Homo sapiens: one gene and its partners. The protein of the gene in region 2 purifies or fractionates together with the protein of the main gene of each other region. This does not show direct contact. Each region holds a gene or a part of one and is shown on either strand. Other genes may lie near its edges. The genes, in order: G3BP2, CAPRIN1, EZH2 and STAU1.

Region 1 (7,693 bases), on a different chromosome or scaffold from region 2:
AGTCAGGTTTATTTATTTTAATTGAACCATGGACTATATCCATTTCCAACAGCTAAATGCATATTAATACTGGAACTTTCTGAAATTCCAGATGGTTTTTGTTTGAAGTAACTTAAACAATCTAAGGAACACTATACCTTTTTAAAGAAATGACCTTCAATCTTTTGTGGTACACCATTGAATGAAAGCTTCACAAAGAAGATCTAAGAATCATAGTGGTACAAATAAATAATAAAAGTAAGTTATGGATTAAATCTCTTATTCAGGCTCCAAAAGGTGTTTTTGTTTTCTGTCCTTCTCAGAAGTTGAGGGAGGCTAGTTTTAAAATTCAGAAGCTATTAAAAGTGACCAAGCAGTAAGAAATGGAAATGCTTGCTGTCCACAAAAATAAAGCATGTATTTATACTATGTTTTAAAGTTTAACAAGTAACCTACTATTTTCTTTTGTCTTTAAAATAGATAGGGCATTATCTTCATTTACAGAAAAGGATGTTTAGAGAGCCTAAGGAAAGGTGTTTGGGGTTCCTCAGTTACAGTAAAAAGAAAGAGGATTTGAAATCAGGTCTCCTGACTCCTGACTCAACTGATGTTTTCATTACACTTTGGTTAGGAACAACCGCTTTGGAAGAGCAGCCAGCTCTTCCAACAATACAAAAAATTAATTTTAAACAAGCAATTGTTAGCTTATGTGAAACTGTTGAGAAGAGTGAAAAGCAAAGGAATACAGCAGGACAGCAACAGAAAATCCAAGAATAATTTTCAATATACCTATGGTTTCAAGATAGGGTAAAATACTTGGAAATTAGCAGATAAAAGTAAGCAGAAACACGACAGTCAAGAAACTAATTCTATTGCTTCTGAAGGTAGGCCAGGACCTTCCTGAAGGTGGGTGGACCAATTTATTCTATCGGATATAAAACAAGTGTCTACCAGTGGAGAGTAACTAGGTCATGTTTGTCCATTAAATTCTACTGAATTTAAGTTCAGACGCAACACTTTAGTTTGTGCCTTTCAAAATCAACATTGAAAAGGAGTCATTCACTGTCTCCATATTCACTCAAAATATGTGGAAAGTCTTTTTAAAGCAATCTAGGGGGAAAATGTTCAATCCTAATTATGCGTAATAAACAGCGATAATTTTGCAGGATAAGGAGGGAAGTTTTCAGAATCTAAAGACACAGTGCCAACACTTTCTTCAAACCAGGAGTTGCCTGCTGACAAATCAACTGCTCAGCTGCTAACTGAACAGTTAAGTTAGTTACTCTACGAAATGGTCAAATAATGTGTTTTCTTCTTTACCTTCTAATTTTTATCCCCATCCATCCCACAAGCATTCTGGTTCACTCTTGATGTTTTTTCACTATTACTAATATTTCGACCCTGAATATCAATCTGAACTATGACAGCTCTTAGTAAGAAATTCATTCTAGGTCCTTATTATTCCTACAATTCCTTGACTGCTTTTCAGAATTAGTTTGTAAAGATTAAATCATAACATAAAGGCCCATAAGAGTAATCTTAAACATTTAAGAAAAATGTTACTGCCAAAGAAAGGATAATTCAATCCTGAGGTTCAAACTCATCGTACCGTTTATCTCCTAAGACCAGGAATCTTGGATTATCAAAAAGACCACTGGATGCTAACAGGGCCAAAAGTTTACTTAGAAACTTGGTTCACATGCCTAAGGCTATATTAACTGCCAAATATGGAGCTAGAGAAAAATTGCCATCATCTCCCACTCTAGTACACCGGGGCTCTCTTAACGACAGTTAATGTTTCCTAGATCCAGGTACCTGCAACACTAACGTTTGAAAGACCAGAACAAGGTACAGAGCCTTGAACCTAAAACCACAGTATCTTAATCCAAGTTAATATCCCACAACAATCATACAGGGAGAACAGGACTTTACTATTCCAGCTAAAAGTGCAAGTGCCTTTTTTTTGTTGTTGTTATGAAGGAAAAGGCACTCTCCTCCCACCCCCCAAATCCGTTAGAACATTAAGTATGTCTTGGGGAAAAAAGCTGATCTATGCAGGAAATTATAGACGAAAATCTATATTCGCCCCAAAGCGGCAAAGGGCCATCTTAAGAAATCTGCTTTTAGAGACGCAGGAAAAATTCTATCAGATTCCACTAACAAAATCAACACAATCTAGGGAAGCTTCTGTTCCTTTCTGTCCCCCCATCCCAACAAAAGCGGGAACCCATCCCCCAAAAGCCATTCCCGAGTCAATAAGGGATCGTCTGCATAAGAGGGGGACGAAGAAGGCGCACGTTACAGTTCCAGTATCCGAACACGTTCGGATTAAACCCGCGGTGGCAGGGAGAGGGGGGTTGGTCAAACACGACGGAACACTAGGTACTGGGTAAGCGAAGCGGCGGCTGCCTTCAAACCCGGATTCTGTTTCCGTGCACAGAAATGGTGCCCGGAGGCCGCCACTTTCGCATCTGCGTCGCTTCTGCCTCCGTCGACACAACCTCTTTTCCCCTCCCCCCACGGGCGGGGTGGCGACGGCCTCTCCGCTCCGAAGGAACAAGGTACAAGAGCCGAAAACGATTCGGAAACAGGAACGGTGGGCTACCCACCCTAAAACATCCCCTCCAGAAAGCCTGCTCCCACACTTCCTGTATTAAGCTTCCATCAGCGCGCCTTCGGGAGCTGCTGCGTGCCTCCCCCCCCACTTCGCCACCTCATCCCCAATAAACCTCAACCCCACCTGTGCACTCGGAGCCCTCTGCCCGCAAGACGCTCGCGGGTCACCTCCCTTCCCAGGCGGCCTCCCACCCCTCACCTAGAGGAAAGACTGGTCTTCTCTCACGCACACACGGCACCGTAGGGAGCCGGCAAGAACAATGTCTCTGCCGCTACACCTCCGGCTCCCGGGCTCACACACCGGACGATTGCCTCGCGCCGCGGAGCGCGAATGGAATGTCCCTTTCCGACCACCACACCGACCTCCCCTCCCGGCGCCCGTACACACCTCCAGCCAACGGCGGCGGCGGGTACGTCGCGCGGAGGTCAGAAGAGTCGCTGAGGACCGGGTGCGGCGGGTTCTTATTGCTCGCCGCCCCCTTCCTCCGACAACTCGGAAGCCTCGGAAGCCGGAGAGCCGCGAGTTCGTCTGCCTCACAACCACCTCTTCCCGGGCGCCAGGCGCTGCGACGTGCGACAAGGACCACGGACGTCCCGCCCCCTTTGCCACCGCCCCCTCTTATTGTTTTACCCCTGCCGAAAGGGCCAGGGAACCCCCGAGCACAGCGTCAGCCAATCACGCATCTCCTCCAGAGCCGGACCCAACCTTCCCGTGTCCCTCTGCGGAGCACGCGCAGTACGCTGCCGCGCTCGCACACGCTCGCGCCCGGAAAGCCGGGGAACCGGAACCGGCCTAAAGCCAAGATAAGAGTCCGCTGATTTGACGTCACAAGCAGGCTGCCTTTCTCCGGTCCCGAGGCTCCAGCCTTGCCGCCCTTCTTCCTGATCGCGCAAGCGAGAGCTGGTTCGCAGCAACGCAGTGTCTTTTGTAGACTGATATTCTGGTCCTTTTTATTAATGGGAAGGAGGGAATTTAGTAATCTCTCTGAATAGGTGTCTGCAGGTTGCTGCTGTAGACGAGCTTAAAATGCAGCCGGTGATTTCAGCTGTTTGCACACTAAACTCACCTACATTGTTTACTTAACCCATCCTAGGTTTTAAGCCCCATTAAGAGGCCCTGCAGTAAAGGAAGAACATGACGTGGGCTTTACAGAGGGGGAAAAGACTATTTCTTTGTGTCCTTGTTACGAATTTAGGCATGGCTAAATATCAGTAGATACTAAAGCATTTTACATACTAAAGCTAAAAGAAGGCCTGAAATACAAGGATTACAGTCCTGTTCTAGCTCTAAGCCCAGACTTGCCCCCAGGGTGAGACACTGGTGACCTTGTTTCATGGACAAAGCCAAGCCAAATCTTGTAGTCAAGGAAGCCACTTTGCATCTTAGGTCTGGCAGTGTTTTCAGAGAATACCGAGATAGCACAGGAATTTTGGAATGAAGGACTGAGGAAGTGTTCAAAGAAACGGAAAGGAAAAAATACATTAATGAATGCTTACGAACTAAACATGGTGGACGCAAGCATGTACATCTCATCAGTTTTCTTCGCAATCCTGTAAGGGCAATTTTAAGGTATTTGGCATGTTAAGACAATACGTCAAATACCTTAAATATTGGCAGAGGCAATGCCAACATTAGGGCCTCCAAAGTCTACAATATCTTTACCTTTAGACTGCTTAAAGATACTGTTATATGCAAAATATTTGGGCAGACCATCACTTTAATGAAATCAACCTGATGTTTTTCCTTAAAGCATCAAAATACATTACATGCCGGCTGTCCTTTAATATACTGGGCTTATATACCAGGCATTCTTGTAATTATACAGCCTTCTGAGCCTCACAGTAACCCTATGAGCTAGTTGCTATATGTATGTACATATATATATATATATATATATATTTTTTTTTTTTTTTTTTTTTTAAGATGGAGTCTCTCTGTGTCGCCCAGGCTGGAGTGCAATGGCACGGTCTTGGCTCACTGCAACCTCCGCCTCCCGGGTTCAAGCGGTTCTCCTGCCTCAGGCTCCCTAGTAGCTGGGACTACAGGCGCATGCCACCACACCCAACTAATTTTTATATTTTTAGTAGAGACGAGGTTTCACTATGTTGGCCAGGCTGGTCTCGAACACACCTGACCTCGTGATCCGCCCGCCTTGGCCTCCTAAAGTGTTGGGATTACAGGCGTGAGCCACCGCACCCGGCCAGTAGTTGCTATTTTTATGCCCATTTTATAGATGAGAAAACAGGCTTGGAGAGGTCAAGTAACTTACCCAGGACTACACTGCTACTATTCACTGGAGCTGGGATTCAAACACAGGCAATCTGCCTCCACAGTCCATACCCTCAGGCAAACTATAGAATACTCCCATTGTACTAATTGCCGCAATTCACTTATCTGCCCTACTGCTGACTAACCTTCAAGTGTTTCCGGTTTGGAGCTCTTCCGTGCAATGCTATTATAAATATTCTTCACCATGTATCCTGCAGAGGTGCAGAACTTTCTCTAGAGCAGTGGTTCTCAGACCTTAATGTGCACCGAAATCACCTGTAGGGCTTGTTAAAACAGATAGTTGGGCCCCACTCCCTAAGTTTCTGATTCAACAGAGGCCCGAGAATTTGCACTTCTAACAAGTTCTCAGCTGATGGTGCTACTGCTGCTCTAGGAGCCACACTTTAAAAACCACTGATATAGGCCGGGCGCGGCAGCTCACGACTGTAATCCCAGCACTTTGGAAGGCCGAGGGGGGCGGATCACCTGAGGTCAGGAGTTTGAGACCAGCCTGACCAACATGGAGAAACCTCGTCTCTACTAAAAATACAAAATTAGCCGGGCGTGGTGGCGCATGCCTGTAATCCCAGCTACTCGGGAGGCTGAGGCAGGAGAATCGCTTGAACCTGGGAGGCGGAGGTTGCGGTGAGCTGAGATCGCGCTATTGCACTCCAGCCTGGGTGACAACAGTGAAAACTCCGTCTCAAAAAAAACAAACACCACTGATCTAGGGCAGAGGTGGGCAAACGGTTTGATAAGGGAAGGATTAGATAGTAAATATTTTTGGTTTTGAGCGCCACGTATGGTTTCTGTTGCATATTCCTCTCTCTCTCGCATCCTTTAAAAATTTAAGAAACATTTTTAGTTTAGCTCTAGAGCTACACAGAAACAGCCCTCAGGTAACCCTGCTCTTGAGTAGACACCAATAAGTGGAGTTAATGGGAAAAAAGATTCAGCGATCTTCAATGTTAAGTAAATATCTCTAACCTATTCTAACTGGCGATTTTTACCTCATAAACATATCTCTACACAAATAGCCCCTGCCCAGGTTCAGGCCCCTTCATCTTCCCAGGAAGACTGCAGTGGCCTCCTAACTAATCTCCCTGCCTCTCAAACATAGCCTCCATGAAGCAATGTCCACCTCCTATAGACTAGGCAGGGAGACCAGTGTGAACGGTATTCATTCGGTGGCTCAGGCCAAAAACCTCTTTTTCTCACACCAATTTATTGACAGCCAATTGCCAATAATTTTTTTTTTTTTTTTTTTTTTTTGAGATGGAGTCTCGCTCTGTCATCCAGGCTGGAGTGCAATGGCATGATCTGGGCTGACTGCAACCTCCACCTCCCAGGTTCAAGCCATTCTCCTGCCTTGGCCTCCCAAGTGGCTAGGACTACAGGCATGTGCCACCACGCCCATCTAATTTTTCTATTTTTAGTAGAGACGAGGTTTCACCATGTTGGCCAGGTTGATCTCGAACTCCTGACCTCAAGTGATCCACCCACTTCGCCGAATTGTCAATACATTTCTGTTCCCTCTACCTTCAACATTTATTCTGGATTAAATACTTTGCATCACTGTTACTGCTGCTATAGTAGTCCAGGCCACCATTGCCTATTGCAATAGCTTTCTACTTGGCCTCAATGCTTCCACTCTTATTCCACTACAGTCTGTTCCCCTCACAGCAGCCAGATCTTTCATAGTTATAATTGAGATGGTCCCAAAACCTTTAAAAGGCAACACAAAATCTCAGGTCCTTACCATGGCCTACAAGGCCTACCTGATCTAGTCCTTACCTATTACTTCCATTTCTTTTCTTACCACTGGTTTTCTCACACCACCCCAGCCAGCTCTTCCTTTGACATTCTCATCACATTACCACCCCAAGGCCTTTAATGTGAACCTTTATCAAAACACTGTGAAAAATAAAAGTAAATGAATCAGACCCAATCACCATTAGCAGGTAAATTTTTAAAAGTAAAATTACTAGAATTATATTACCTGATTCCTGATTTTTATTATAAACTTCAGCATAAAATACTTAGATAAGTATTTGAATAAGATAAGACATTTGAATTTATAAAGCTTTTCCTCTACACCCTTTCATTTGACCATTCTCAACTTTACTGAATACTAAAAGATCAACCAAGTCCATTATCACCACTTTTGCTGATGAAGTAGGTGTATACGAGATGACTACATGCGGCTGGGCGCAGTGGTTCACGCCTGTAACCCCAACACTTTGGGAGGCCCAGGTGGGTGGATCACGAGGTCAGGAGTTCGAGACCAGCCTGGCCAACATAGTGAAACCCCGTCTCTACTAAAAATACAAAAATTAGCCAGGCATGGTGGTGCGCACCTGTAGTCCCAGCTACTGGGGAGGCTGAGGCAGGAGAATCACTTGAACCCAGGAGGCGGAGGTTGTGGTAACCCGAGATCGCACCACTTCACTCCAGCCTGGGCAACAGAGCGAGACTCTGTCTCAAAAAATAAAAAATAAAAAAAAAAAGAGATGACTACATGCATGTTTAGGGGTCACACACCCCACATAAATAAGGTTTATGAAGACCAAGCATTGGAAGGGAGTAAAATCCAAGTCCTTAAGGGAAACGCATTTTTCTTGGAAAGTGTCTTTACTCACCATGTTTTTAAACTTTTAAGGCTTGCAAAACAAATGTCTTGGCCCCACTACTAATTCAGTTAGGAAGGATGATGCTGTGGATTGAATGTATGTGCCCCTCCAAAATTCATGTTGAAACTTAATCTCCAATGCAAAAGTATTAAAAGGTGGGTGGGACCTTCAGGCGGCAACTAGGTCATGAGGGCCTCAC
Region 2 (7,313 bases):
TCTCTTTAAATTTGTATAATATAAAACCTAAAAATTGCAAAAATATATATATTTTTGAAGCTCGACGTTAAATAAACCCAAGTCTCGTTATAAAAGCCCTCCACAAGTACTTCTAAGATGGAGAAATCTGCACTAAATTTTAGAATTATGTCTAAACTATGTCTTCTGAAATTCTCAGTTCTAAATAAAAAAGGCTTATTATATTATAATACATTATTTAAAATGCAAGACTTAAGAAAAACTTAAAAAGTCATCAAGAGGAAAAATGAACCTAAACATAAAAATAAAGGCTGACAGCTATCCACAACAATAAATTTGCTGAATTCCAACAGAAGACTTGGACACTGATGAAATTCTTATTTTCTTTCATAAGCTAAGAAAGAAACCAAGGAACCAATTAAAACAAAAGTGAAAAAATATTTTTTAATTATTTTTTTAAAATAGAGATGGTGTCTCGCTACACTGCCCAGACTGGTCTTGAACTCCTGACCTCAAGTGATCCTCCCATCTCAGCCTCCTAAAGTACTAGGATTATAGGTACGAGCCACCTAACCTGGCCCTGAAGAAAATAGTTTTATCACTCTTACCTGTGTCGCTTCTGGTTGTACAGGAACTTGATTAGGCTGAGCAAGTCTAGATTCAGAATGAACTGCAAAGGTGACCAAAACATTTTTGTCAAACAAAATTAAATTTTTAGAGAGACGCGTCTAAATACCTTTTATTTCGCTATTAAAGGCTTTTTTTTTTTTTTTTTTTTTTTGCGGGGGGGGGGGGGGGGGGAGTGTCTCACTCTGTCACCCAGGCTGGAGTACAGTGATGTGATCTTAGCTCACTGCAACCTCTGCCTCCCAGGCTCAAGTGATCCTCCCACCTCAGCCTCCCAAGTAGCTGTGACTACAGGTGTGTGCCACCACACTCGGATAATATTTGTATTTTTAGTAGAGACAGGGTTTCGCCATGTTGCCCAGGCTGGTCTCAAACTCCTAGGCTCAAGCAATCTGCCCACCTCAGCCTCCCAAAGTGCTGGGATTATAGGAATGAACCACCATGCCCAGCAATTAAAGGTAAATTTCTATAGCCAAACCATAAATAAACTTTTTAGCAATCATGAAAGTAAATTGGGAAATGCAGATAAAATTTTAGCTTTCAAGTGAGCATTTTGGTTTACCGGCAGTGGTTATTATTTAATAGTTTACTTTCACAATTGGTTTCATCTTGTTTTTTCCAAAAGTAAAGTAAAATGTTAATAGAATGCACTAACAAATAATCAGTGCCATGAAAAAAGACTTTTAAAGCTGTACAATAAAGTGGCATTATTCATACTCTAGACCTCAGACAGATAGTATTCCATTTTGACCTTTTGTTTCTTCTGAAACAGGGTCTCACTGTGTTGCCCAGGCTGGAGTGCAGTGGCGCCATCATAGCTAACTGTAGTCTCAAACTCTGGGCTCAAGAAATCCTCCCACCTTGGCTTCTTGAGTAGCTGGGACTATAGATGCATGCCACCCTGCCAAGCTAACTTTTTTATTTGACTAATTTTTAATTTTTTTGTAGAGGCGAGGTCTATGTTGCTCAGGCTGGTCTCAAACTCCTGGGCTCAAGTGATCCTCCCTCCTCAGCCTCCCAAAGCACTGAGATTACAGGCATGAGCTACCATACCCGGCTCAATATATGTTAACATAACCAACTTTCAATTTCAAGTGTTTCTAGAGAAAAAGAAAATTTAAAATATGTACTTTTCGGCCAGGCACAGTGGCTCATGCTTGTAATCCCAGCACTTTGGGAGGCCGAGGCGGGTGGATCACGAGGTCAAGAGATTGACACCATCCTGGCCAACATGGTGAAACCCCATCTCTACTTAAAATACAAAAATTAGCTGGGTGTAGTGTGGTGTGTGCCTGTACTTTCAGCTACTGGGGAGGCTGAGGCAGGAGAATCCCTTGAACCCGGGAGGCAGGGGTTGCAGCGTGCCGAGCCAAGAATGCGCCACTGCACTCCAGCCTGGCGATAGAGCGAGACTGCGTCTCTAAATAAACAAATAAATAATATATACTTTTTAACAGCCTATATTCAACTCAGCATGCATCTTCTTAACAATTCCCATCACTCTCTCACCTCCCTTCCCAACAATGATTAAACAGATAATCAAAACGACGATCTTTGGTTAGTCATTTAGAAAGTACCCATTTTCACTGGAGAGTCTAATGGACTCAGCATTATGTAAATAACTAAATAGCCTTACAGGTTTTATCAGTGCTATGTATACTGACTTTCACACAACTCCCCAGCTGAGAAAACGACTTACTCTCTTCCTTTGGTAGAGCTCAGAAAATGAACACTAAAAACCATGATTGCTCTCTTGTAGGTGTCACCTTTGATCTGTTTTCTAAAACTCTTGATAGAAATGTGAGAGCCGGGCGCGGTGGCTCACGCCTGTAATCCCAGCACTTTGGGAGGCCGAGGCGGGCGGATCACGAGGTCAGGAGATCGAGACCATCCCGGCTAAAACAGTGAAACCCCGTCTCTACTAAAAATACAAAAAATTAGCCGGGTGTAGTGGCGGGCGCCTGTAGTCCCAGCTACTTGGGAGGCTGAGGCAGGAGAATGGCGTGAACCCGGGAGGCGGAGCTTGCAGTGAGCCGAGATTGCGCCACTGCACTCCAGCCTGGGCGACAGAGCGAGACTCCGTCTCAAAAAAAAAAAAAAAAAAAAAATGTGAGAGATATGAGCTCCCTTTACTTCAGAAAAATCCTAACTACCTTACACCAAATTAACTGTCATTAAACATACTTTTACTCAGCAATTTATTTTATGATATTTAACATCATGCAACATTAAATAGGTTATTTTATTTAGTTCCACTTTTGTGCAACTAAAACTGATGTGTTCTGGGAAAAACCAAGATGACTCACAATCACTAATAGTCCTGGAGAGAAGGTCCACTTAACCCAATGGAAGGCACCAACTGTATTTAGTGCTACTACTTCAAATAATGGTGTAAGTCCAGAAAGAGTCTGAAACTGTCTTGTGGTTTCTCTCTTCCCTTTGCCTCTTACATATTCCCTTACCCACTTCATTGCTGTGTATTTTTTTAAGGTAATAAAATCCAGAAATTCTCCTAGAAAGCTAAAAGCATTCAAAAAAAGGCACCTCTATTATTTTTACTCCTAGATTAATTTTGAAATTTTAAAAGCCAAGCAAAATTTCACTTGTTAAAGTTACAAAAACAGACAAAACTGGTCTATTACAGTTACAAGTACGGAAGTGGTTGCTATCGCTAGGGGTGAGGGTAACTAGTGATTGAAAGGAAACAACGTAGGTTTCTGGGGTACTGGTAATGTTTCATTTCTTAATCTAGCTGCAGGTGTTTTCAGTTTATAAAAACTCATTAAACTTGCGTATATTTTTCTATATCTACATGCCAATGAAAAGTTTAAAAATAAACAGTTATAAACTACATTTTTAATTCAAATCATAGGAACAATAACATTCTTTCTATCAAATTAAAAGACCTAAGAGTCAAAATTAAACAGTCATTAAAATAAACAAAATTTATTTTCACAATCTTTTTAAAACCTGAAAGTACTGGCCTTATATTTCTCTCTCACATAAAAATGTACCACTACTAACCTGGAGGGCAAACCAGCTGGGGCATGTCCATGTTTTGTGTTGGATTCATAGGCTGTGCAGATACAATGGCAGGATCAAGTGTCTGATTTTCAAAATCCAGCATTGAATCCTACAGGTTAAGTTAGGATAGAATAAAGTCAAATAATATAAACACTTAAACTTTCTGTTACAGAGTCTGACTAAAATGAACATACCTGTATGAAATTATAGGGACCCTGCATTTGTGCCATAAGGTCTTGTACTCGCTGTCTTCTCACAAGGGGATCTGCCTGAGCCACTGGAGTCAAAGAGTGGGGCTCTGGTACTGAAGGGGATGCAGCCTGAGGTTGCTGCTGGAGTGAATTTACCACCTAAGGTAGAAAAAAAAGGATTAGAAGGAATAGGAGAGCAAAAAAGCTCCACTCACTACCACCATGATGGGTCCCCCACACTACATAAACCATCTATACTATAAACAGAACGGGCTTTAATGCAGTTACCCAAATGAATTACATTTATGCCAAATTTAACATTCTGAAAAATGTCATCACTTCTACAGTGTTTCAGTTCCATAAGACCACTATGTAGCATTTCATGTTGATTTACTTATTTATTTATTTTTTTTTCTTTCGAGACGGAATCTAGCTCTGTAACCCAGGCTGGACAGCAGTGGCGGGATCTCGACTCACTGCAACATCCATCTCCCGGGTTCAAGCAATTCTCCTGCCTCAGCCTCTCAGGTAGCTGGGATTACAGGCACCCATCAACACACCCGGCTAATTTTTGTATTTTTAGCGGAGACAGGGTTTCACACCATATTGGCCAGGCTGGTCTTGAACTCCTGACCTTGTGACCCACCCGCCTTGGCATCCCAAGTGCTGGGAATACAGGCATGAGCCACCATGCCCAGCCTCAGATTTATTTTATAAGCTGCTTTCAAAGAAAGATTACCTGTGTTTACATCCTAAAATAATGTATTTTTCTTAAAACTGTTATGCCTTCTATAGTAACTGGATTTATATATCTATGTCAAATATATATCTATCTCACAACCTGGTACATAGCACTCAAGAAATGTTAGCTATTATTATCATCAAGATTTGGGTTTTTCCCATTCCATTTTCTCAGCCAACACCATAGGATCAAGCTTTACCAACTCATCTAAACTGCTACAGAAGCCAAAGCTCACTCTATTAGCCTTTTCCCAGCTCTAATAATTTCCTCTGCTTATTGTTCTTAGTAATTCCCTGCTCTGCAAGGAAATCCTATCTTTTATTACATCAAATTTATATTATTCTGTCTGGATTTAAAACTGGACAAGTCATACTGGTTGAAACTAGGCAAAATCAGCTATTCCCTTTATAAACAACACAGATAAAAATCACTACCAAAGCGAAACCAACAATCTGTGTAATACCAACTTCAGGATGCTCCAAAAATTCGTGGAATCTCATGTGGATAGCCTTTAGAAAGGCCCACCTACTAGATACAAAGAACAAACCACACTGGCACAGTGGCAAGTAGTATGCTCTTCTCAAATAAAATCCAAAAAATACTTAACTACAAAGCACTGTATACTGCTTCCCAACTTCTTCCTACTATGTCAATATTTACCTTGCATTCTATGTTCAATAAAACAAATATGTTAATAGTTCATTTCTACTTCTACATCCATGCTATACATCCCTATTACCTGGCTCCCCTAAAAACATACATCCCATCGACTTAGTCAAGGCTCAATGGGTTTGTACACCTCATATATACAGCTGACATTTGAACAACATGGGCTTGAACTGCACAGGTTCACTTATCCTCCAGTACTCTTGAGATGTGAAACACCTGTATATATGTGGGTCCCGCAGATACATGGCACAACTTGAGTATGAGCAGACTTCGGTGTGTGGGAGTGTCCTAAAACCAATGCCCCTGGTATAACAAGGAACAACTGTAAATCACCTCTACTAATCTTTTTGATTGATTTCTCTTCTAATCCTCCTATAACATTTCTGAACTGCATTCTTTAATTCAGCAAATATACACTATTTTGTTGGGACTTCCTGAGCAGTATTTTCATCCCAAGTACCTTTCTGGGGTAAGTGCCTACTCTCTTTACCTTACCAATGGGACATTTTGGTGCTCCAACAGAGGGATGAAGTTGCTGGCACAATTATAACATCTATGGGCCAGGCGCAGTGGCTCATGACTGTAATCCCAGCACTTTGGGAGGCTGAAACGGGCAGATCACTTGAGGTCAGGAATTCAAGACGAGCCTGGCCAAAATGGTGAAACCCCATCTCTACTGGGCAAGAGTGAGACTCTCAAAAAAAAAAAACTTTGCAATCTCTTTGGAAAATGGGTTTTTTTCTTCTTGAGACAGAGTCTCTGTCAACCAGGTTGGAATGCAGTGGCACGATCTCAGCTCACTACAACTTCTGTCTCCCCAGTTCAAGTGATTCTCGTACCTCAGCCTCCCAAGTAGCTGGGATTACAGGCATGCACCACCATGCCCAGGTTTTTGTTTGTTTTTGAAGTAGAGACTGGGTTTCACCATGCTGGCCAGGCTGGTCTCTAACTCTTGGCCTCATGTGATCCACCTGCCTCAGCCCCACAAAGTGCTGGGGTTACAGGCATGAACCACCGTGCCCGGCCAAGAGAATGGTCTTGATATAAGAATAACATATTAAAAGGAAAAGCATATTACCCTCAGCTTACAGCTATTTTCCTGCACCTTGGGGGTGTAAAGAAAGACATCTAAAAGAAGATCAAAAGGAAGGCCAGGACCAGTTGGTAAGGTTTTTAGACTGTATCTTACAGGTAACAAGGCATCACTGAGAGCCTCAAGTACAAGTAACTTAAAGCTAACTTTTCCAATAATTAAGTTGTGACAATGAATAGGATGGTCTGGAGGCAGTCAGAGAGGAGTAATATGAAGAGAGTCACTGAACTAGACATGAGGACCCGAAAAAAATCATCATTATCAGTTGAGAGACAGCATTAGAAAACGCTAGAGGAAGTCTACAGCCTGGTGACCAAACAGCATTAGGGTAAAGGAGGAGTGCAAGATGATACCCCAAAACACAGCTATCAGTGTGGGAGCCCAGATTTTTACAGAGCAACCTAATTTCAGTAAGAGACAAATCATGGTAACAGATTAATCCACAGATAACTTTGTATAAAATAATTTTTTTAGATTGGTTCAGCAAAGCAGGGATCCTATTAAACATCCACAGGGATAAACATTCATTTTTTGGAAGTAACAGTCTGGTGTAATGAGTCTGTTATTATAATAAATGTACTAATAATGCAAAAAACAATCTTAATTTGTTCTCAGTAGAGATAAAAATTACTAACTGAAGACAAAGACAACAACTTTGCAATACAGAGAACTCTTACCTCAACCGTTTCAACTGTCCACTCATCTACCTGCTCCTTTTCACCACTGGTGAACTGTGTTTCTGCCATGAACTGTCTATTTACATACTGCAAAGCAAAGTAAATGTTTGAGACATTTGTTTGAAAGGCAGCAAAGTAAAGGCAGCATTAAATTAAAATCATACCTCTGTTGATTCAACTTCACTTTGCTCAGTGTACTCTTCTGCTGGCTCAGGTTCTAAGAGGTTAAAAAATGGTGCAAAACAAAAGGATTTTTAGGTCAGTGATACTACTCTACTCTGTGTGATATTGGTAGATACACGTCATTATGC
Region 3 (7,313 bases), on a different chromosome or scaffold from region 2:
GTTGTTGTTTCTAGGTCCTTATCAACTAGGTTGTGGATTAAGCAGGCCACTCTATGGTAAAGCTCTTGTTCTCCCTGTTGTCCCTAGACGAGAAAAACTAAATGTGGCTAGAACCAAGCAATCCTGTTTTGTTTTGCTTTTTTTCCCCTCTGAGACAGGGTCTCACTTTGTCGCCCAGGCCGGAGTGCAGTGGCACAAACATGGCTCACTGCAGCCTCAACCTCCCAGGCTCTTCCAGGCTCAAGCGATCTTCCTGCCTCAGCTCCCAAGTAGCTGGGACTACAAGTATGCACCACCACGCCCGGCTAATTTTTGCATTTTTTGTAGCAATGGGGTCTTGCCATGTTGCCCATGCTGGTCTCCAACTCCTGAGCTCAAGCAATCCACCTGCCTCGGCCTCCCAAAGTGCTGGGATTGCAGGAGTCGGCCACCGCGCCCAGCACAATCCAGTTACTAAGCATGCAAATCCACAAACATGCAGAAGTCCAGGCTGAAAAGGCAGTTTATGGCAATTCATTTCCAATCAAACCCACAGACTTACCTAATAAAATCAATCTAAAATAAAGTAAAGTTAGTATATACAATGCCACCTGAATACAGGTTATCAGTGCCTTACCTCTCCACAGTATTCTGAGATGAATTCATTTTTCTGCACAGGATCTTTGATAAAAATCCCCCAGCCTGCCACGTCAGATGGTGCCAGCAATAGATGCTAGAGAATAAAACACAATCACATCATCAAAAAAGGAGGGTGAAAATGGACTGGGGACAAAGTAGACTACAGAATGAAAACAAAAGCTATCACTGTAAATCCTCAGACCTGTTTGTTCTAAGGCAGTAATTGGGCACACAGCTTCAGTCAACGTGAAAGCTGCTGAGAATGGCTATGAACATTATGTTTTCCTTATACAGCAGATAAGAATCTCTGTCTTACAGAAAACCTTTTGGTGGTGTTGGTCCTCTGCAATGACCATCGTTCAGCAAGGTGCTCTAGGCCTGCTGCACTTTTGGCTTCCCTGTATCTTCAGCCCTTGATTTCCTCGAGTAATTCACTTTCAACCTGAATTTAATATAAGGACACCACCAAATCACTCTTCCTCTCCATACCTTTCCCTCTACTTTCCCCAAGTGATTCTATTAATAGTTATTCCATTTTCAGCCCCAGGACACCCCCTGATTCTTCACTGGCGTTGGTTCCCTCTGAAGCCCATAGCAGCTTGGCTTTGGATTTGTTCTTCCACCCCACCTCCTCAGGATAACACAAGAAACTACCGGGAGGTGTTATCATGATCTTGTCAGTCCAGTAGTCTATTTTCAGCAGAAATGCCAAGATGATCATTGCTATAAATTATGTATTTAGGGATGTGTTCCCCAACATATGCCAATTTTTCATCACGGCTCAGTATTATGCTTTCATCCAAAATTTTCTTGTGACCTTTACAAAGGCTTCCTATCTATTCCTATTCTGGACCATCTTACCACTCACCTGTCATGTGAACTTCCCAAATAGCCTTCTGATCAGAAACTAAATTAGCTAAATACTGCTATGCAAATGAAACCCAACTGGTAAAAGGTATCTACATAGTTTAACATTTTTAAGAGTTAAAAAATGTCTTACAAAGAGGACATGTCAGTATGAATAGAATTGCCCACTTTCTGAACAAAGTGAGGAAGGAGTACAATGGTAAGTTGTTTGGGGGGGAAATTGAGATTTTTAGGTCTGAGCAGGTATGCCATCGGAAACGGAACCAGAGTCACTGTGATCCAATGACCTAAATGGACATATAACTGCCTAGAGTAAAATCATCTAAATGTCTAACAGAAAAGAAAAAAGTCAAAGCTAAAAACAAAAAGCCCACCACCCTGCACAACTCTCTGCCATAAACACAGACTTTGGTTCAAAGACACAAACAAAACCAAGAGAACTTCAATGTTTTGCCTGGAGCAGAATTTCTGGTAGAAGGGGACTTGCTGGTAAGAAGTGTGTTCTCAATTATAAATAAATGGTCCAACAACAAAGATATGTCTACTCTACACCCCACATACACACACACACACACACACACACACACACACAGAGCATAAGAGCAGGTTAATGGGAGCCTGGAGGATTTGATCTCCTGCTCCTTTACAAGTCTTGTGACTTTGGGTTTCCTTACCCGTAAAATGGGGGTTAACACTTACTCCTCACTCACAGGGTTAGGAGAATCAATGAACAAATCCACTAAAGCACTCACAACAGTGCCTATTTTTACATGCTTAATAAATGTCAGCTATTATTATAAAAAGAACTGACTGAAGAAAGAACTTATCATCTGCCCTAAAAAAAAAAAAAAGATACGAAATTTCCCAAATACATGCTGCTGAAGTGTCTTTTGCTCAATCATTACTTCCTGGCTGATAGAGTTAACTCACCTACATACAATTCCCCAGACTAAAAATATATAGTTCCTAGCTGGGTTTTTTTCAAGGTTATTAAACAAACAGGAAGTAAGTCTATAAAAACCTGCCATGGGAAATTTCATCTTTTACTCTACATAGCAAGGAATCTATAAATACTCTTTGATGAGAATGAGTCTATATTTTGATAGAAATCACCATTTATTTGCATTAAGGATACTAGATAAACTATTAACTAAAAGACAAATTCAAATAATCTATTAAACAGGTAGAAAAAATACCTCTTATTCCTAAATCTGATACCATGAATGGCTACTTCTCAGAATTTGCTGGTTTCTCCTACTATCAGAGTATGGTGCTCTATATAAAACTGAAGAGACTGCCCAAGGGTGCATTACCCAGAGAAAATTATGAACACTTTCTCATCAGTTGCACCTTTCAAGGATCACTTTTACTTTTTGCCCCAGCTAAATCATCTAAGGCAATCCTGACATTTGCATCACTAAATAGCTAACTACAAACAATCTTCCAGAAGTGACTTGTTGCTCACCTTTTTGGAGCCCCGCTGAATACTGCAGTTCTTGCAGGACACATTTTTACTGTCCCAATGGTCAGCGGCTCCACAAGTAAGACAGAGGTCAGGGTCACACTCTCGGACAGCCAGGTAGCACGGGCACTGCTTGGTGTTGCACTGTGCTTTGCAGCGGCATCCCGGAAAGCGGTTTTGACCTTCAGAGAGAGGTTTGGAGGTTCTTCACTCATCACCGTATGCAAAAACTTGCAGAAAGATACGTGGCAAGGGCTGTACTGGGCATCTCACTGACTCTCAACCCTCACAACCACCTTATTACCCTACTATATAGACAAGGAAATGGAAGTATTAACAGCGAAGTTATAGCTGTTTGCACTGAAAAAGACCACCACTGAGTTGTTTTTCCATTTTTCATTTGTTAAATAGTGTATATATTTAAAGTCGGTGTGAATAAAGGGTCTGGATGGAACAATATCCATGGTCCTTGACCATTCCAATAGCCCCTAGTTCTAAACACTCCCTTAATACCCAAGCTTCATGTGCAGTCTCATTAAACAATTATAAAAATCTACTATGTTTATGCTACATTCCTTTAATCTGAAGACTAAAACCCTCCTAACTCTGACGATTTCTGGTGCCCAAAAATTATTTGGGTAGCTCCTTCTAGATTCCTCTTACAATCTGTGCCAACTTTAATACAACTTAATTTAAATGATCAAAGAAGAAAAAAATAAAATTCAGGTTCCTTTAATACAACTTTGCCTGCCTCACACACACAGACACACAACACCCAGGCGACTGACTGGCCACTGGCACAGGGCCAGGTATGGGGCTCAATAAATACTTGTCAAATTGATGAGTTTCGTCAAGTAAACAAGGGAGTGCTCCCATGTTCTTATTTTTGATTTTTTAAATTGCTAACCAAAGACCTATTTAGTTCTCATGCAATTGCATCAAAGCAACAAATACTTACACTCTGAACTACATTGACAAAACTTTTCACAAAAATTTTGTGCTATCACACAAGGGCACGAACTGTCACAAGGCTGCCGTGGATGATCACAGGGTTGATAGTTGTAAACATGGTTAGAGGAGCCGTCTGAGTAAAGATAACATCATGCAGGCCAATGAATCCAGGGAGATGGAAACGATCATACACAATTAACACGAGTACATTCTTCCCTACTACCTGTGGAGTGTAGCTGGCCTGCCTTTACTGAATGCATAACATTACACATATTCCGGTTTCCACAACGATGGCAAAAAATACTCTCCCACCCCCAAGTGCTTATGAGTTCCATCTAAAGCACGGCTACATCTCAGTCCCATCCCAAAGCACTTCTCCTTCAACTGACTCGGACTCACACCTTCCAGTCAGCCTCCACTTTACAGAAGAGAATTGACTGGGGATTCATCAGTAGACGTCCTCCATTCAAATTGGTTTAACATACAGAAGGCAATTATATTAGAATAACCCAAGCTCTAATCCAGTTACTATTCTAAAACAAATGAAAACAAAGCAGATATTGTTAAGCTAATAATGAGAGGAATGGAAAGATGCTAACCCTTTTTCAGCTGTATCTTTCTGCAGTGTGCAGCCCACAACCTGCAAAAACACAAAGAAAATTAAACCAAATTTCTGCGGGAAGCTACAAATCCAACAGAGAGCTGCTTAACTGGATCTATCTGTGCCATGAATACAGGAATGCGTTAAAGCCAAGAGTCATGCCCTGCCCAGTTTATATTTGCCATCAGTTTGAAGCAACTCAAACAGCTTGATGGCTCAGGCTGCCCCAGGTGTGGCAAGACGTCATTTCCTGTGTTCATCCATGACTCCTGGTCAGAACTCCTGAGCTCCCAATGCTGCACAAAGCAGCAGGTGTGTCTGCCTGTTGATTTATTCTGATGTGGATGACACTGATCACTTCCTCTTATTTCAGGCATCATAAACCAAGCAAGTGAACTACGTGGTCAGAAATAATTCAACCAAAATTTCAGAAGCATCTCCTAAAGCCTAAAAAATAAAAATAAAAACTTGACTTTAAAAAAATTCTAAATTGGGTTGGCCCTACACTTATTTTTGTTAAAGTAAGAAAATGTAACATGAGCCTGTACACAATTTAAGAAGCATAATCTAACTGCACCCTTACCTACCCAATTAGGTTTCTCATTTTTAAAAATGTGAGGTAGAGGTATGGGGAGATTAGAGCAGATAGTCCACTCATCAATTTTTCTGGTTCTACATTTACAAATCAAATCAGCCTGAAAACATTCGCTAAGGTGAAAATAACATTCACACAAGCTTAAAGTAGGGTACCCATTAGGAGTATCGGAATGCAATGCCACACAACTTAGAAATTCAAGCTCCTGGAATAAAAGATACTTCTAAAAACTGGCCCAGAGCTCACATCAGAAACACAGAACATTTCATGATGTTAAAGTAATTGTTTACGTAACCTTTACTGCAAAAGCTACTAAATATGTTTTTCTTAACCCAAATGCAGTCTGGTAACCGTAATTTTTATGACTCTTAACATACCAAATATACTGAAGGCTGCTGTATTCTTATAGAAAAATACTAGCAATTCCCAGTGGAAATAAGATTCCATAGTTCTGTTTTTGATGGCAGTTTAAGGTTTTTTAAAAATAGACTAAGTAGAAACCAACAACAGCCCTTAGGAAGGGCCTTGCCTGCAGTGTCTATCTATGTTGACTTCTCTAAGGAGCTTCATGACAGACTCACCGGTGTTTCCTCTTCTTTTTCCTTGGAGGAGTATCCACATCCTCAGCGGGAGCTGGAGCTATGATGCTAGATTCTTTGACTCTAAACTCATACACCTGACAAGAGGCACAGTCACAGAGCCATGAGGACAGTCTTATTTAGGCAAACCATTCTTATACTCATGCATACCAGAAAAATGTCTTTGTCTCTTCTGTGACACTGCTAGATGCTGGGGATATAACACACATCGCTGTCCCTACCCTCACATTAGGGGTAGCTGTAATTATATTCTGGTCAAGAACTGTGATGCTAAATTTCAATTCTTACTAGCTTTTAAAAGCTACTGCTATCTAACCTTAAAAGTCTACATTGGGGAAATTCTGTAACATACCTGGAGAATAATTTTCATTCAATTCCCTCTTGGGAAGAAAAAAAAATTATTTTTAGGAGATGAATAGGAGCTTAGTAATAACCAAGAATTTTCTTTGTTTGGACAACGAGTACAGTTTTATCTCTATGTTTGAAGCTCTTTTAACAACATTTTTATCGGATATCTTACCTGTCTACATGTTTTGGTCCCAATTAACCTAGCAATGGCACAGAAATTGTCATAGTAAGTGCCAATGAGGACTCTAAACATTGAGGCTTCAGCACCACTCCACTCCACATTCTCAGGAGGTTCAATATTTGGCTTCATCTTTATTGGTGTTTGACACCGAGAATTTGCTTCTACAAAACCAAATGTAAGCACTGGTCAAGAAATGATTGGAAATAATATTAAGAAGTACAATTCAGGGTGTGCTTAAGAAAAAAGCGAAAAGATGAGGACAACTCAAATCCAATCGGCAAAACACTAACCCATCGTAGTTCACATTTTCCAACAAAACTACTCACAGAACGTCAAGAATATTAAACCAAATGATCCAAATTTCATTATTCCCTACCTGAGAAAGATCGAAAAAAGAAAATGGCACAAAGAATGAGAATAAAGTGCATCATCAGCTTTCAAACAACCAAGCAGGGCAAACACCACAAGCTAGGGTACGGGTGCAGGCAGGAAACAGAAACAACACAGCTACACATTCTTGAGATAACTCTGGTCTTTATACTGAAACTAACCAACTAAGAAAATTATTCAATGCATTATACATCCTTAATCCTCACAACACGAACTTTCACAGAACAGTAAAACCCAGTTATTAGACGTGTCTTACCAGAGGAGCTCGAAGTTTCATCTTTCTTCTCTTCTTCTTCTTTATCATTGTTCTCTCCCCCCGTTTCAGTCCCTGCTTCCCTATCACTGTCTGTATCCTTTGATTCCAGCACATTAATGGTGGGGGTGCTGGGCCTGCTACTGTTATTGGGAAGCCGTCCTCTTCTGCGGCCTCCTGGACGTTTTGGTGGGGTCTTTATCCGCTCAGCGGTGAGAGCAGCAGCAAACTCCTTTGCTCCCTCCTACGAAATGAAAAATGTCAACATCAGGGCAAAGTTCTAAAACTCATTTTGATGGAAGAGAAAAAAAAATACTATATAAGCCAGGTTAGTCAAAAAATGTATCACATTATCCATTTATCACAAATAATCATTTGCATGTCTAATATACTTGTTTTGATATGCTTTTGATAGTCTGAAAATTTCAGAAAGAGAAATATGGGTTCT
Region 4 (7,313 bases), on a different chromosome or scaffold from region 2:
AAGAAATATATGTCTATATTTGTATAAAGAAACATACAGGAAAGATACAGGAGAAACTAGTAAAAATGTGATCTATGGGGGAGGCGGTGGGGAGAATAGGAGGGATGGGATGGGGGCTGTCCGAGGGGAAGATTGTACCTTGTAAAATAATGCAGAGTTCTGACCATGTGAAGGTATGACCAACTCAAAAAGGTTTTTTTGTTTTTTTTTGGGACGGAGTCTTGCTCTGTCGCCCAGGCTGGAGTGCAGTGGCGCTATGTCGGCTCACTGCAACCTCCGCCTCCCAGGTTTTAAGCAGTTCTCTGCCTCGGCCTCCCAAGTAGCTGGGATTACAGGTGCCTGCCACCACACCTGGCTAATTTTTGTATTTTTAGTAGAGACAGGGTTTCACCATCTTGGCCAGGCTGGTCTTAAACACCTGACACCTCATGATCCACCTGCCTTGGCCACCCAAAGTGCTGGGATTACAGGTGTGAGCCGCTGTTCCCAGCCTCAAAATGTCTTTTAAAAGTAGAGCTTTCTGCCCAGAGAATCTGGAAAACTTTCAGGCAAAAGGGCCAGAAAGTAACTCAGGCAAATATTTCCCCGCTGAGTCAGCAGATAGTGTAAACTCAACACAAACGAGGGGCAGCCTCCCCATCATCAGCGCCTTCCCCTTCATCAGTGCACTCACACAGACATTGGTCCGTTTCCTGTTCTTGGCATCTCTGTACTTTGTTGGTCCAACTCAGACAGCAACTTTAAGATGTTCAGCGCAGCCTAGTGGGGATGGAAAGAAGGGTAAAGCCACAGCCACCGCTTGGGACCACAGCATAATACACTGGTCAGGCAGGCAAGAGAGTTCCTGCTGCCCAGCAAACAGGTGGCAACTTCTTCAACTCTGGTACTACTAAATAAAACTTTGAATTTTTAATTTAAAATACAAATTAAAAAATATTCAGTTACCTCACTGAATCATAACCTCTGAAAATGTTATATTTTTCCTTCTAGTATTTTTAACCATGTGGTAACCAGACTGTATAAATGTTATATCCTGCTTTCTAACAAAAATCTATCATGTATTTTTCTTTCTATAGAGACAGGGTCTCACTAAGTTGCCCAGGCTGGTCTCAAACTCCTAGGCTCAAGCGATCCTTCCACCTTGGCCTCCCAAAGTGCTGGAATTACAGGTGTGAGCCTCCACACCCGGCCTATCATGTATTTTTCTTCTTATTACATTATCTTCGGAGACACTGTTTTGTTTTGAAACGCAGTCTCACCCAGCTGCCCAGGCTGGAGTGCAGTAGTGCAATCTTGGCTCACTGCAACCTCCACCTCCCGGGTTCAAGCGATTCTCCTGCCTTGGCCTCCCAAGTAGCTGGGATTACAGGCACCCACCACCACACCTGGCTAATTTTTTTTTGTATTTTTAGTAGAGATGGGGTTTCACCACGTTGGCCAGGCTGGTCTTGAACTCCTGAGCTCAGGTGATCCGCCTGCCTCAGCCTCCCGCAGTGCTGGGATTAGTGTGAGCCACCACACCCCACCCAGAGACATTAATTTCATGCATGCATGACATCCCATCAAGTGAATACATCACAGTTTACTTAGATTTGTTGATCTGATCAATTCCTTTTCTCAGTTTTCTTATAACAATAATTTCATCTGAACAGAAGACCAAAGCAAGTGGTTTTTACAGCTGCCAGAACGTGGACCTGCAATTCCTTGTTCTGGTGAGAGATGAAGTGAGTGCAGTCTCTGGGTGAGCTGCAGGATCCCAGTTGCCCCTCCAGGCCAGCAGGGAAAAGGAAGGGAAAGGTGGGCTAAAGCTGATGAGTTCTGATCAAGAGTGAGAAATCGATCCAATCAGCTATGACAAAAAGTCTTCAAAAATATGAACACTATCAAACGATTCATTGCTCTCAAGGTCTATGGGACAATCTTTCTCCCATCTTCCTCAGGCTAGTAACAAGCTGAACCAAGGCAGGCTCCACATAAACACACAACACCCCAATCCCTCACCCAAGGTGTGACGTACCATATCATGGCAGGACTCCACATCCTTGCCGATACCATGGCTGATCAGAGGTGGCTGAGAGGAGCAATTGATAAGAGATACAAATTCGTTCTTGTTGTTTTTGGGGAAGTCTTTGTATTCAACCTAAGGGGGAAAAGAGAGCTGAGGCTAGGTAGGGAACAGCAAGTATGAGTGGGCTGGAGGGCTGCAGCTCCAGGCCCCACAAGCAAGATCACCAGCTCTTTTTTCCAACTCAGCCCCACTGTGGCCATACTAACACCTGCCCTGTCAGCCCAGAACCTTCCAGGAACCTAGGTGTCTGCTCAGAAGCCCAAGACTGGGAGAAGCCATATCCTTTCCTACCAGACAGAAAGTGTCAGCACGATGAGTCTGTTCTTTGAAATCCAAATTTACAACCACTGCTAGTGGTTAGAAGCTTTTAGGGTTGGCTTGCATGTTGAAATCTTACTACCAAAGGATAAAGATATTTCTCTTACCACATATGCTTACAATACTTCTATACCTCCTACCCTTCCATCACTGCTCCCCAGCCCATCCCTGGACAGAACTTGATTTAAGAAAAAAGTACAAAGTTCAAAGTTCATTTTCTGAGAGAAGCCAAAAGATGACTGTCCTGAGGCACAGCCATCACAGCTCAGGCCAGACAGTTACCTGGAATCCCTGGACTCTGGAAAGATAGTCCAGTTGCTCAGAGGGTCTCGTGAGAGGTCCATGGGGTACGTGGCCTGAAGAGATGTTATTCTTTAAAATGGTCTCGGCTGTGGGCGAGGTGCCCCCATACAACAACTCTCGGGCTATCATGGCAGTTACCGTGGCCTTGGCAGGATTCGGAGCTGCCCTGGTAAAATCTTTGGTGTGATGTCCTTGACTAACTCCTACAGCCTGGGCGACCTCGGGCACCATGGGAAGAATTCCAGCAGGCAGCTGCTGATGACTTAGATAAGGCATCCTGAACTCATCCTCTTTATTACCTGGGAGGGACATACACGGTAAACACGAATCCACATCCACAGCCTGGAAAAACGCAATGACACCATCAAACCCCACGCTGGCCCTCCCCTTGGCACGCATGGCAGCGCAGGGAATCAGGGAATGATAAAGACACTTTGCATGCGGGACCTCACTGGCTGGGCTCCTGCTGTTATTCAGGACCCATGCAAATCCCAGAATCACGTTCAGAGGAAGACGATATTAAGATCACACTTACTAGTCCCATTTTCATCCCCAGAGCCAGGTTCAAAAAAGGTTACTTTTCTTCCATCCCCTGGTTTCTTTATGGGTGTCTTAAAAAAGAAGAAGAAAAAAAAAAGGCCATGAGCATAAATCAGATCACTGAAAAATTAGCTCCTGCTGTCTAAATCTACACAAAGTCCAGTCAGCAATAACTGTGGCAATCGGCAGAAAAACCCTGCCCCACCTGACCACTGGCACCCTGACAGACACCTGGGCAGAGCCTGCCTCCTTCTCCTAATGCACCCTCCTGCCCACACCCCTGCCCACAAAGAGCATCTAACAAAGTGCACTAACCTGTGAATGCTGAGCTGCACTCTGCACCCACAGGAAGACGGGAAGCATTTAACCAGAAAGAGCAGAGATGCTAGACGGTAGAGCCCACCAAGGTGGGGAAAGAAGCTTTCAGACTGAAGCTAAACAAATAAATCAAGAATATTTCCTGGAGCTGATATCCAATTAAAAAATAAGGTGACATTCCAAAATTAACACCCTTACGGGGAAAATGTTATTACCTAAGAATTTTGTCTAACACAACATCACCTTTCTAAGAAGTAACAAAGGACACTCTGAATGTCCTACAAGATTCTGAAATGAAAAACCCTAAAGCCAAGTCTAAGATCTATACTGGTGGTATCTGGGGTCCCAGTCAGTTATTAACTGGCCATGACTGATGCTGTTTCTGTCAATATGACTGGCAGACATGAATGAATCAGGCCTGATTTCAAGTTTATCTCACCAGGACCATTCAGTGATGGGAAAGAAGAAGGTCAGCCATGGCTTTTGCTGAGGTCCTGCTTACCACTTCTGGCAGACACGAATTTTTCTTTTTACGTTCCTTTTTTGTTGTTGTTGAGACAGGGTCTGTCGCCCAGGCTGAGTGCAGTGGCATGATCACAGCTCACTGCAGCCTTGACCTTCCAAGGCTCAATCCTCCCATCTCAGCCTTGTAGCTCGGGCTACAGGTACAAGCCACCATACCTGGCTGATATTTTAATTTTTTGTAGAGACAGGGTTTCATCATGTTGCTCAGACTGGTCTTGAACTCCTGGATTCAAGGCCTCAGCCTCCCAAATTACAAGTTTGAGCCACCACACCTGGCCGTGAATTTTTCAACAGGGGATTATTTTCATCTGATGTTTAACTCACATAGGAAAAAAGAAATCCCAAACCTAAACTTTGGATTTGGCCTGTCTCTACTGTCACACTGTCTTATTTTGCCAGAAAAATCAAAGCCTATTCCACAATTAACGAAAGCCTAACAGTTATAAATCTTTCACACAGGCTTCATTTCTAGAGTGCAAATCACACTTAGTAATTTCAGTCCTAATTACCCTTCATCCTCATCCTACAAATAGAGAGGAGCAAGCTGCCCTCCACAAAGCGTCCCCAGACCACAAAGATACTGACACAATCAACGATCTAACCCAGAGCCTCCTGGGGCCAGTGGACATGCGAGGCCCCTCTGAGCACATTATGGTCCAAATGGATGAGACACTCCTCAGCAGGACTCCTTGAACTGTCAGGCAGATAAAGCCTTGCCTTGAAGCCTGCCCCTGGAGGTGCCCCAGTTCCCTAGGGTGAGGCGAGAGACCATCTTGCAATCAGAGAGCCCACAGCACTCACCTTCTCCTCTGACTTGAGTGCGGGTTTGGTGGGCTGCGCCTGCGGGACTTTGAAACCAAGGATCTCCAGCATGTTCTCGGCTGCATTGCGCTTGGCCACCTTCTTGTTGGTGCCCGTTCCTTCTGCAGTGTGGTTTCCAACCTTCACCTGCACAAAGAAGTCAAAACACAGACCAGTGCTTAAACCTTCAGAATAACAACCAGGCAGGAATTGGTGTGTCAGCAAAATAACCAACTATGGTCAGAAGCAAGATAACAGCAGTGCCCCGAACCTGGCCTCCTTGTCTCTGAGAGCTAATTATTAAATAGTCAGGAGTTTGGGAAGCTGGCTGTTAAACACAGCCAGTATTAAACATTTAATTATATAAGCTGATAATTATTTTAACAGAGGTAATTTTTGACTGCATTTTATAATCATCTGTGTTCTGAGGGTCTGCCCAGCTATTGCATTTGTACAATGGAAACAGTCTGTGATGGTGAACTACTGTACATCTATTCCCAGCATTGCCATTGGAAGTATCACTTTGAGAGCTTGAAATCAGCCATGGTGGGACTATTTATACCACAGAAATATACAAATGCTACGTATCAAAGATCATAAGCTGTTTATTGTCTAACTCTAAACCTACAATGATGAAAAGGTTAATAAAGCAGGTTAATCTTAAAAGCATGAGAAGTCTGCAGCCATTACATTGTAACTAGCACAAAAAACTGAAATATCTTCCCGTCTTTGAAAATTATCTAATTTTGCAGAGAAGCCACTCATATCATTTACAAATGAGTGATGTTACATGTCTTCATTGTTTCACTTTTTCTTTTTTCTTTTTTGGGATAGACAGGGTCTCACTTCTTCACCCAGGATGGAGTGCAATGGCATGATCTCAGCTCACTGCAACCTCCACTTCCCAGGTTCAAGCGATTCTCCTGCCTCAGCCACCCGAGTAGCTGGGATTACAGGCGTGTGCCACCATGCCTGGCTAACTTTTCTATTTTTAGCAGAAATGAGGGTTCACCATGTTGGTCAGGCTGGTCTCGAACCCCTGACCTCAAGTGATCCGTCATGCTGGGATTACAGGCGTAAGCCATCAAGCCCAGCCTGTTTTACTTTCATCTTACCTATTAACATAAATAAAAAACATCAACCAGCCGGGCGTGGTGGCTCACGCCTGTAATCCCAGCACTTTGGGAGGCTGAGGTGGGTGGATCACCTGAGGTCAGGAGTTCGAGACCAGTCTGGCCAACATGGTGAAACCCCATCTCTACTAAAAATACAAAAAGTAGCTGGGCGTGATGGTGGGCACCCGTGAATCCCAGCTACTCGGGAGGCTGAGGCAGGAGAATCACTTGAACCTGGGAGGCAGAGGTTGCAGTGAGCCGAGATCACACCACTGCCCTGCAGCCTGGACAACAGAGCAAGTTGACTCCATTCCCCTCTACCCCAAAAAAAATGTATCTCAACCAGTATTCATGCTACAACCAAAATCTCAAATCTACAGTATGTATTTGTCAGTGACATGAGCAACACCTTTGCTGAACTGGATAGTAATAAACCATTATGTGCTGTCTGATTTTATAACACTATCGTTGGTAACTGTCACACTGAAATATGTATGAAATTTACAATAAAGTGTATATTATTTATAAATTGTACTACACATCCTTTCTGTCAGTAAAATTTATAAAACACACATATATGTCAGTATAATTTATAACACACATCCTTTGTGTCAGTAAAATTTATAACACACATGTATATAACACCCATGTATATATCTATAACATACATATTCAGCTCATTCCACCAAACCACCCTCCCCGAAGAAGAGCTGGTTGTTAAACATGTTCCAGCACATCACTACTTACAACCCCCTTCCAAGTTGATTGTAATAACAGGCACCTGGCTGCTAAAACCAAAAGCCCAGGTCACAAGACTCAGAGAGTCAAAGAAACCATTCCCTGGCCTGGGACTAAATTCCAACCTGGCCATCTACCAGCCATTTCATCTTGGGCAAACTACTGATCCTCTCAGCAAACTGCAACTTCCTTTTGTGGAATGAAAGGATCATTCTTTTCCTACCTTCTGACTGCATAGGTAAAATATACGAGGTCAACTTTCTAAGTTATAAATTGCTATACAAGAGATAAGGATTCTGTCTTACATCAGAAAGCACTTAAATTCAAATCACAATTAAGTTAAGCTGCCTATGTGAAATGACCACTTAGCTTTGAACTTAATCAGCTAAGTACAAAGAAATGTTCCATACTAATCTGAAGTGTCACCCAATCTAAGGAAGAGGTAACCCTAGATTCCAGACTCCATAAGAATTAGGAGGAAGAGGAACAGATCTCTTGATACTACTTACAAAATTTACCTTTGGTAAAGAGCAATGTCATAAACCTTCAAGGAGATGTAATGAAGAAAAACTTCTCCCAGCACCCAC

What was found.
Region 1: the proteins of CAPRIN1 (region 2) and G3BP2 purify together in Homo sapiens (affinity purification with mass spectrometry; 5 studies listed by BioGRID and IntAct, with this or other methods). This does not show direct contact.
Region 3: the proteins of CAPRIN1 (region 2) and EZH2 purify together in Homo sapiens (affinity purification with mass spectrometry; 2 studies listed by BioGRID and IntAct, with this or other methods). This does not show direct contact.
Region 4: the proteins of CAPRIN1 (region 2) and STAU1 purify together in Homo sapiens (affinity purification with mass spectrometry; 2 studies listed by BioGRID and IntAct, with this or other methods). This does not show direct contact.

Annotation. Positions count from the first base shown.
Region 1 is NC_000004.12:75,670,225-75,677,917, forward strand, and holds the start of G3BP2 (ras GTPase-activating protein-binding protein 2), read right to left. Parts: upstream 3,188-7,693; 5' UTR 2,984-3,187; intron 2,934-2,983; exon of another isoform or gene 2,795-2,933; intron 2,671-2,794; exon of another isoform or gene 2,589-2,670; intron 2,478-2,588; exon of another isoform or gene 2,282-2,477; intron 1-2,281.
Region 2 is NC_000011.10:34,082,731-34,090,043, reverse strand, and holds part of CAPRIN1 (caprin-1), read right to left. Parts: intron 7,220-7,313; coding exon 7,167-7,219; intron 7,090-7,166; coding exon 7,003-7,089; intron 3,981-7,002; coding exon 3,825-3,980; intron 3,740-3,824; coding exon 3,631-3,739; intron 650-3,630; coding exon 588-649; intron 1-587. UniProt on the Homo sapiens protein: mRNA-binding protein that acts as a regulator of mRNAs transport, translation and/or stability, and which is involved in neurogenesis, synaptic plasticity in neurons and cell proliferation and migration in multiple cell types.
Region 3 is NC_000007.14:148,811,009-148,818,321, forward strand, and holds part of EZH2 (histone-lysine N-methyltransferase EZH2), read right to left. Parts: intron 7,110-7,313; coding exon 6,869-7,109; intron 6,384-6,868; coding exon 6,214-6,383; intron 5,771-6,213; coding exon 5,676-5,770; intron 4,947-5,675; coding exon of another isoform or gene 4,940-4,946; exon of another isoform or gene 4,545-4,939; intron 4,539-4,544; coding exon 4,498-4,538; intron 4,032-4,497; coding exon 3,906-4,031; intron 3,130-3,905; coding exon 2,951-3,129; intron 713-2,950; coding exon 617-712; intron 1-616. UniProt on the Homo sapiens protein: Polycomb group (PcG) protein. Catalytic subunit of the PRC2/EED-EZH2 complex, which methylates 'Lys-9' (H3K9me) and 'Lys-27' (H3K27me) of histone H3, leading to transcriptional repression of the affected target gene.
Region 4 is NC_000020.11:49,115,109-49,122,421, forward strand, and holds part of STAU1 (double-stranded RNA-binding protein Staufen homolog 1), read right to left. Parts: intron 5,021-7,313; coding exon 4,874-5,020; intron 3,301-4,873; coding exon 3,225-3,300; intron 2,989-3,224; coding exon 2,669-2,988; intron 2,141-2,668; coding exon 2,018-2,140; intron 760-2,017; coding exon 674-759; intron 1-673. UniProt on the Homo sapiens protein: Binds double-stranded RNA (regardless of the sequence) and tubulin.